Homo sapiens: one gene and its partner. The protein of the gene in region 1 purifies or fractionates together with the protein of each later gene. This does not show direct contact. Each region holds a gene or a part of one and is shown on either strand. Other genes may lie near its edges.

What was found. The genes of interacting proteins can lie anywhere in the genome.
Region 2: the proteins of CCDC66 (region 1) and ARMC9 purify together in Homo sapiens (co-immunoprecipitation; one large-scale study listed by IntAct). This does not show direct contact.

The regions. Positions count from the first base shown.
Region 1 is NC_000003.12:56,555,778-56,559,974, forward strand, and holds the start of CCDC66 (coiled-coil domain-containing protein 66), read left to right. Parts: upstream 1-1,397; 5' UTR 1,398-1,465; coding exon 1,466-1,476; exon of another isoform or gene 1,477-1,486; intron 1,487-3,068; coding exon 3,069-3,133; intron 3,134-3,791; coding exon 3,792-3,817; intron 3,818-4,197. UniProt on the Homo sapiens protein: Microtubule-binding protein required for ciliogenesis. May function in ciliogenesis by mediating the transport of proteins like BBS4 to the cilium, but also through the organization of the centriolar satellites.
Region 2 is NC_000002.12:231,373,131-231,376,630, forward strand, and holds part of ARMC9 (lisH domain-containing protein ARMC9), read left to right. Parts: 3' UTR 1-3,500. UniProt on the Homo sapiens protein: Involved in ciliogenesis. It is required for appropriate acetylation and polyglutamylation of ciliary microtubules, and regulation of cilium length. Acts as a positive regulator of hedgehog (Hh)signaling.

The sequences.
Region 1 (4,197 bases):
TGTAAGATGCTGCAACTGTTATGAAAACAGTTTGGCAGTTTCTCGAAAAGTTAACCATAGAATTACCATGTGACCCAGTAATTCCACTCTTAGGTGTATACCAAGAAAATTGAAAATAGGGATTCAAACAGATACTTGTACATCAGTGTTCACTACAGCATTATTCACAATAACTAAAAGATGGAAACAACCCAAATGTCTATTAATGGATGAATGAGTAAACGAATTGTGGTATATATATACATAGAATGGAATACTATTCAATCATAAACAGATATGAAGCTCTGATACATCCTACAACATGGATGCACCTTGAATACATTATGTTACTTGAGAGAAGACACAAAAGGACAAATATTGTATGATTCCACTTTTATGACATGAAGTATCTATAATAGGCAAATTCCTAGAGACAGAAATAAGATTAGAGGTTTCTTAGGATTGAGGGGAGAGGAAAATGGGAAGTTGTTGCTTAATGGGTACAGAATTTTTATTTGGGGGTACTAAAAAGCTTTTGGAAAAATATACTGGCGTATTCCACAACATTGTATCATGGAATTGTCACTTGAAAATGGCTAAAAATAGCAAATTTTAACACACATATTACAACAATAAAAAATAAAAAAGTAAAGGTTTGTCAGGCATTTAATAATTAATACCTTTCATTGTTTTTGTCTGGAAAGAGTGTGTGCAAAGATACTTAACAACCAAATGTAATGTGTGATCCTTGATCGGCTCTTGCATTTTTTTTTTTTTTTTTTGAGACGGAGTCTCACTCTGTCGCCCAAGCTGCTGGAATGCAGTGGCGCGATTGGCTCTTGCTTTCTAAATAAAATGCCTATAAGATATTCTTAGGACAAGTGGGGGAAATTAAATCGGGAAGAGAATTATTATGAAATTAATGATCTTAGGTATAATAATTGTACTGCGGTTATGTAGCAGAACATCTATTCTTAGGAGATACATGCTGCAATGTTAAAGGGTTAAGTGTTACAATGTCTGCAATGTTAAAGGGTTAAGTGTTACAATGTCTGTAACTTACTTGCAAATGGTGACCCCAAAAAGGTGTGTGTGTGTGTGTGTGTGTGTGTGTGTGTGTGTGTGTGTGTGTGTGTGTGTGTGTGTGTCTGTGTACGCGCTTTGGAAGGCTACAATTGCGAGAAGCGCAGGTCTCCGCCACCGAAGCTTTAGACTCATAAGCCGGGTCAGGCCAAATTCCGCTGTGCGTAGGGGAACAAACGGCACAAACGGGGCACAAAAGGGGAACAAACGGCATACGCAACCGTCCCCGCGGGAGCCCCGGCCCAGCTCAGCGCACCCGCCAGCATGCCCCACCCTGATTGGTCCACTTGCTCAGCTCGCCGGCACCCCTATATCCAATTGGCGTAGCGCTTGCTGAGCGGCGGCGGCAACCGACGTACACAAGGGGCTTGAGCGTTCTGTGGAGAGAGTGCGAGGTCAGGCCATGAACTTGGGGTAAGCAGGGGTAAGCTGGGGTAAGCTGGGGTAAGCAAGGTGGTCGTCAGCGGAGAGGGAGGCATGTGTGTCTGGGTTGTCCCTTGGAGTCTTTACTGGAGAACGTTCCCAACCTGCGCCGCCGAGAGGGGCAGAGCCCAGTTCTCGGGTAGAAGATCGAGGCAGATGGGTCGGCCCTTAGCGACTCCACAGACCTTACGTTTTCACTTAATGACTAGCATTAAAACTGCCAGTGATCCCCTTTCGGTCCCTTATTTACCTCAGGATGAGGAGGGAAGAGAGGTGAGGAGGAAAGGAGAGAAATGACGAGACAGTTAGAGGAAGCGTGGCGGCTCCTGGGGAGGACTCCTGGCCCATGCCCCGGGTTCTTCGCCACCTTGTTTTTGGAGTCTTGCAGAATGTTGAAACGCCCAAATTCGTTTTAGGCCCACGAGGCGGGGAACCAGGCTTCTCAAGAAATCGATGTAGTACCAGTGCCTAACACCTAGTAGGCGCTCCTTAAGTAGGGGTGAATAAATAAAAAGGGCTGGTGCATGGTCTTCATCACTCGCAAGTTTGATATTTTGAGAAGATGAGAAGCCACCAAACTCAGACCTAACTACACATCGTTCAGCAAATGTTATTATGTTTTAGAATCTGGGGATATGGAAATAAATAAGATAGTGTGTCCCTTAAGGAGATTACAGTGCAGTGCGTCATTGAAGGTACTTTACCATTGAAGCTCTTTTCTTTCTTGGTGACGTTTCACCAACATAAACACGAACTGTTCATAACCCTACAATAAGGAAAGCCGTAAAACCTATTCTTTCCAGTGTTTTACCTTTAATAGTTAAGGTGAGGTAATTTGATTTCCCCTACCTGAGCAACACCGCAAATTTCGCATTCCTAATCAGACCTTTCCCAGCCTCTCTCTCCCTTGACTGGCTTGCTGGATTTAATTTTCTCTCTCTGAATTATGGACTGTATGTATGGGCTGCCATTTTTGTTCTCAGTGGAGTTTTAGGACCTTAACAGACGTTCAAGTTTTGTTGGCAGTGGCTACTGTTACTTTATGCCTTTGCTTCTGATATGCACGTATAAAGCACCATACTAAATATCACTATGTATTATTTGAAATATTGAAAGTGGTACTCTTTGCTCAAGCAGTTACTAACCTTGATGGCATTGTTAGTAGTCATATCGATGCTCCAGCACTCCATAGAATGTTTTAGTCATGAGTTCATTATGAAACTAATGAATGGCGGTTAAATATATCTTGTTCCTTTAACTTATGTGAGGAGTTTTGGTAACAGCATTATTAAAAAATGGTGGTATGATAACTTAATTTATAGTTTACCAATAACAAAATGAGATTTCAGGTTAATGATAACAATGCTTGTAGTATTGAAGAGTTTCAAGAATTTTCCCCCTGTAGTTGTGGGTTTTATCTTGGATTGCAAACGTTTTTAATTAAAACACTGGTTCGATGTGTACAAGATTCCTGCATAAATTCAAAATAATGGATTTATTGTCAGGTTCAAATGAACATTTCTGGTTATTTAAAATGTTGCGGTTTGTTAAAAATGAGAGACAACTTTCTTTTTTTATTACAGAGATGGTTTAAAGCTTGAAACTGAATTACTGGATGGAAAAACCAAGCTAATATTGTCTCCATATGGTATGTTGTGTTACAGAAATCTGAAATGTTAACTTTTAAATTCATACATAAAATTTATATTAGTTCAACAGACTTTTTGCTTGTAATAGAGTGATATTTAAATGATATTTTAGAAAAAGCTGTTTCCTCAAACTTCTGCAGATTTCCTTCTAGCCAAATAAAATCAGATTACAACACTGCTTACTACTGTCAGTATTCAGACTCATAACATTTAATGTTCCAGTATATTGCGTGTTCATTATATCCATATAGCAAATATCCTCATTGCCTGATGAATAATACAAGTAAAATTTATGTAATTATGTTCTTTGCATGTAAAGAATGTATCATTTGAGAAAAGTTTATAGTAAGACCACCGTAAAATGCTAAAGTCACTTTTAGTATTCGTTTTTAAACTCAGTGTACTTTGGTACCTTCTCCTTCGCATTTTTTTTTCTGTTTATAGTTTTACCTTGGAAAGATAAAAAACAAAAATAAAATAGAAGTAAATCCTTGAACTGGATTAGAAAAAAATACTCAGTCAAGATCTAAAGTTTATGCTTTCGAGGATAATGTTGCTAGCTTAAAATCTTATAACAATATTAATTACAGTTTTCTTGCATTACCACCTTAGTATGCTTTTGGTGGATAGTTTAGTAATTTCTTTTTTCTTTTGTAGAACATAAATCAAAAATTTCTGTGAAGGTAAGCCGTATAACTTTGACCTGACCTGTTTTCAAATGTAAAATGCAGTTTTATTTATAGTGGTTAGAAAATAATTCCTGGGAAATGTCAAGTGTTCTAAGGGGTTTGGAATTATAGTGAGGAGTTATTATTTTCTTGCTTTCAGATTGGTCCTTTCACAGAAATTGAATCATTTTAGGTTTAGCCCAATAGAACCTCTTTCTCTAGATAAGTGCTATTCAGTAAAGCATCTGTGTTAATGGAAGTGTTCATTAATAAAATCAGTATTATTGAATATGGAAGCCACTAGTCATGTATAGTTATTGAACCCTTAAAATGTAACTAGTATGACTGAGCAACTGAATTTCTAATTTCCTTTAATTTTTAATGGAATTTAATGG
Region 2 (3,500 bases), on another chromosome or scaffold:
GTCAGCCACCAGGCCCTCTCTGAACTCCTCACTTGACCCGGAGGCATTGGGAGCAAACACAAAGCTCGCCCCTGGTGTCAGTGGTGCAGACAGAGGAAAAGCAGAGGGTCCGCAAAATGCAACTCCTCCGTGGTGAGACTTTGAAAAGGTGTAGAGTGGTTGCAGACAAACAGCAAAGGAGTGGAATGGAAAAATCTCTCTTGCTCCCCACAAGAAGTCCACTCCCCTACGGATTCCTCAGATGCCACTGGCTGGCACAGCCTTTCCCGCCCTTGGTGTGGGAGCAGCAGAAGTCCAGCGGGGGTGGGAGAATCATCGGGGTCAGGTCAGTGTCTCCCTCGTCTGAAGTCAACCACTACTTTTCCCTCAAGCCTACCAAAGAGCTAAAGTCTGATCTGTAGATGTCTGATGGTTTGAGGAGAAGAAAAGATAGTCTTTTAGAGAAGTGGGGAGTATCCAACTTAGGGTCAAAATACACTGAGATTAGGCCGGGCACAGTGGCTCACACCTGTAATCCCAGTGCTTTGGGAGGCCGAGGCGGATGGATCACTTGAGGCCTCCAGGAGTTCGAGACCAGCCTGGCCAACATGGCGAAACCCCGTCTCTACTAAAATACAAAAAATTAGCTGGATGTGGTGGTGGGTGCCTGTAATCTCAGCTACTCAAGGAGGCTGAGGCACAAGAATAGCTTGAACCGGGAGATGGAAGATGCAGTGAGCCAAGATCACGCCCCTGCACTCCAGCCTGGGCGACAGAGACTCCGTCAAAAAAAAAAAAAAAATACATTGAGATTACCAGGTGGGGTATGTGTGGTTCTTCCAGGAAAGTGCTGAAAATATCACCCAGGCCTCTGCGCCACGCCCTGGGAGAGTACACTCCTGGGCTCACGCCTCTGCATTCCAAGGCTGACAGCTAGAAATATACTTTGTAAAATACCAACAACTTATTCACAAATATTCCAACTATCTACCAGCTCCAATGAGCTTGCTGAGGATGGGTATGACCCCAGTCTAAGGGGAAAGAATCTAAAACACAAGTAAACCTGTTTAAAGGCCAGATCTCCAGATGGAGATCCAAGCAGATGGCGCCTAAGGTTTGCCCTTGAAAACTACCAAGGAAGCCACAGAGAGGGATCTTTGGACCTTCTGGAAAATGGTAAGGCCCCAGGTAGATTATGGCTCCTCTGCCCTGGAGGCTGAGCCGCCCCTCTGGTTACCTCACATCTTCTGGTTTCTTCTGAGTGGGACTTGATCTCATTTCTGCATTCACAGCAAGGTGGAACTGTCTGGCAAGAGCTTAAATTAGGACCTGTGGTGGGGACTTTAATAGGCAGGTGGAGGTTTGAGATCCAGTGAGATGCCAGAGATTAGTCAATAGGTGAGGAAAGATTTGGCCCAAATCAAAAGAGCTAAAAAAAAAATAATAAAATAAAAATAAAAATAAAATAGTTGAACAAATAAGGTTCATGAAAAAAAAAGAAAAGAAAGAAAAGGTAAAGAAAAGAAATCCATGATAAAATATCAAACTTTTTAATAAAAACAAGTCTGGCCCTGTACTTGGATGACCCCACCTGGCTTGTCTAACCCTAATCCCAGCCCCAGTTTTAATAAAACTGTATTTACAAAATAGGCAGCTGGGACGTGGACCAGAGATACCAATTTGATTTTTTTTAAATATTACATTAAAATATTACATCATGTGTCTTCATTACTGAGTTTTGGGGTAGCCCTTTAAATTTTGTATGCAAGGTGAATACCTCACCCCTCTCTCCTGGCCTAGAATCTGGGGGATCCTCCTGTCCCTCCCACAGTGCCTGATAGCACAGCCTGGGGCTGGTGGTGTGCCTGTTTGCCTAGCTTTATCTCTCCAGATACTATTTGGGGTGTGCTGTTCTAAGAAGTGATTAGGTTAGCTTTTGCATATTAACAAACTACCTCTGAAACTTAGTGGCTTAAACCAACAAATGTATTAGCTTTATAATGATTTGGATCAGTGATGGGGGCTGGGCACGGACAGGCGATTCTTCTGCTGGGCTTGGCTGAACTCAACTATGTCTTATGGTCAGAGGGCAGTCAGGGGCTTCGCTCATGTCTGGTAGTTGGCTGTTGGCTGAGCCCTTGGTTCTCCTCTGGCTTAGGCTTGTTCACATGGTGGCCTCGGGGCTCCCATGGCAGTTAGAGAAATCAAGCCCAAGTCTCATATCACGTTCACTATTCTCCCATTGTCCAAAGCAGACCACATGGCCAAGGCCCAAGTCTGTGTGAAAGGATGTGGATACAGGGACCCCGAATGAACCAGAGGCAATACTGCTGCAAGCTACCACATAGATGCTGTTCAGAGCTTTGCAGGACCAAATCTTTTAGGGCTGTTTTTCCATTGTGGTATACCCTCTCCATTTAGATTCAATTGAACAAATATATTCTTTGGGGCTGCAGTGTGTCAGATGTGGAGACATGGTCCCACTGGCTTTCAAGTTGCCATCCATCTTCTAGGGAGAATTTCTGGCCTTTTCGGATGGCATGGTCCAGGCCGGAGCACCAGCCCCAGGTTGAAACATCAGGCAGGTTTCTAGGAAATGGTTGCAAAATTAGCAAAAAGTCAGGGCTACAGAGCCCTATCCAGAGTCGTCATCTTAAGGTGTCTACTAAAGCCTGGGGGTGGATGGGATCTCAGAAGGGGGACTAGAGAAATAGGAAACTGGGGACAGAACCCGGGGGTGAGAAAGAAGACAGCAGGTGTTGTGGGAAGTCAGGGACCCCAAACGGAGGGACTGGCTGAAGCCATGACAGAAGAACGTGGATTGTGATGATTTCATGGACATTTATTAGTTCCCCCAAATTAATACTTTTGTAATTTCTTATGCCTGTCTTTACTACAGTCTCTAAACATAAGTTGTGAATATTTCATGGACACTTATCACTTCCCCAGTCAATACCCTTGTGATTTCCTATGCCTGTCTTTACTTTAATCTCTTAATCCTGTCAGCTGAGGGGGATGTATGTTGCCTCAGGACCCTGTAATAATTGCATTAACTGCACAAATTGTACAGCATGTGTGTTTGCGCAATATGAAATCTGAGCACCTTGAAAAAAGAACAGGGTAACAGCAATTGTTCAGGGAATAAGAGAGATAACCTTAAACTCTGACCACTGGTGAGTCGGGCGGAACAGAGCCATATTTCTCTTCTTTCAAAAGCAAATGGGAGAAATATCGCTGAATTCTTTTTCTCAGCATGGAACATCCCCTGAGAAAGAGAATGCACACCTGGGGGTGGGTCTCTGAACTGGCCCCCCTCCCCCGGGGGCGTGGTCGTCTCTTATGGTCGAGGCTGCAGAGATGAAATAAACTCCAGTCTCCCATAGCGCTCCCAGGCTTATTAGGAGGAGGAAATTCCCGCCTAATAAATTTTGGTCAGACCGGTTGCTCTCAAACCCTGTCTCCTGATAAGATGTTATCAATGACAATGGTGCCCAAAACTTCATTAGCAATTTTAATTTTGC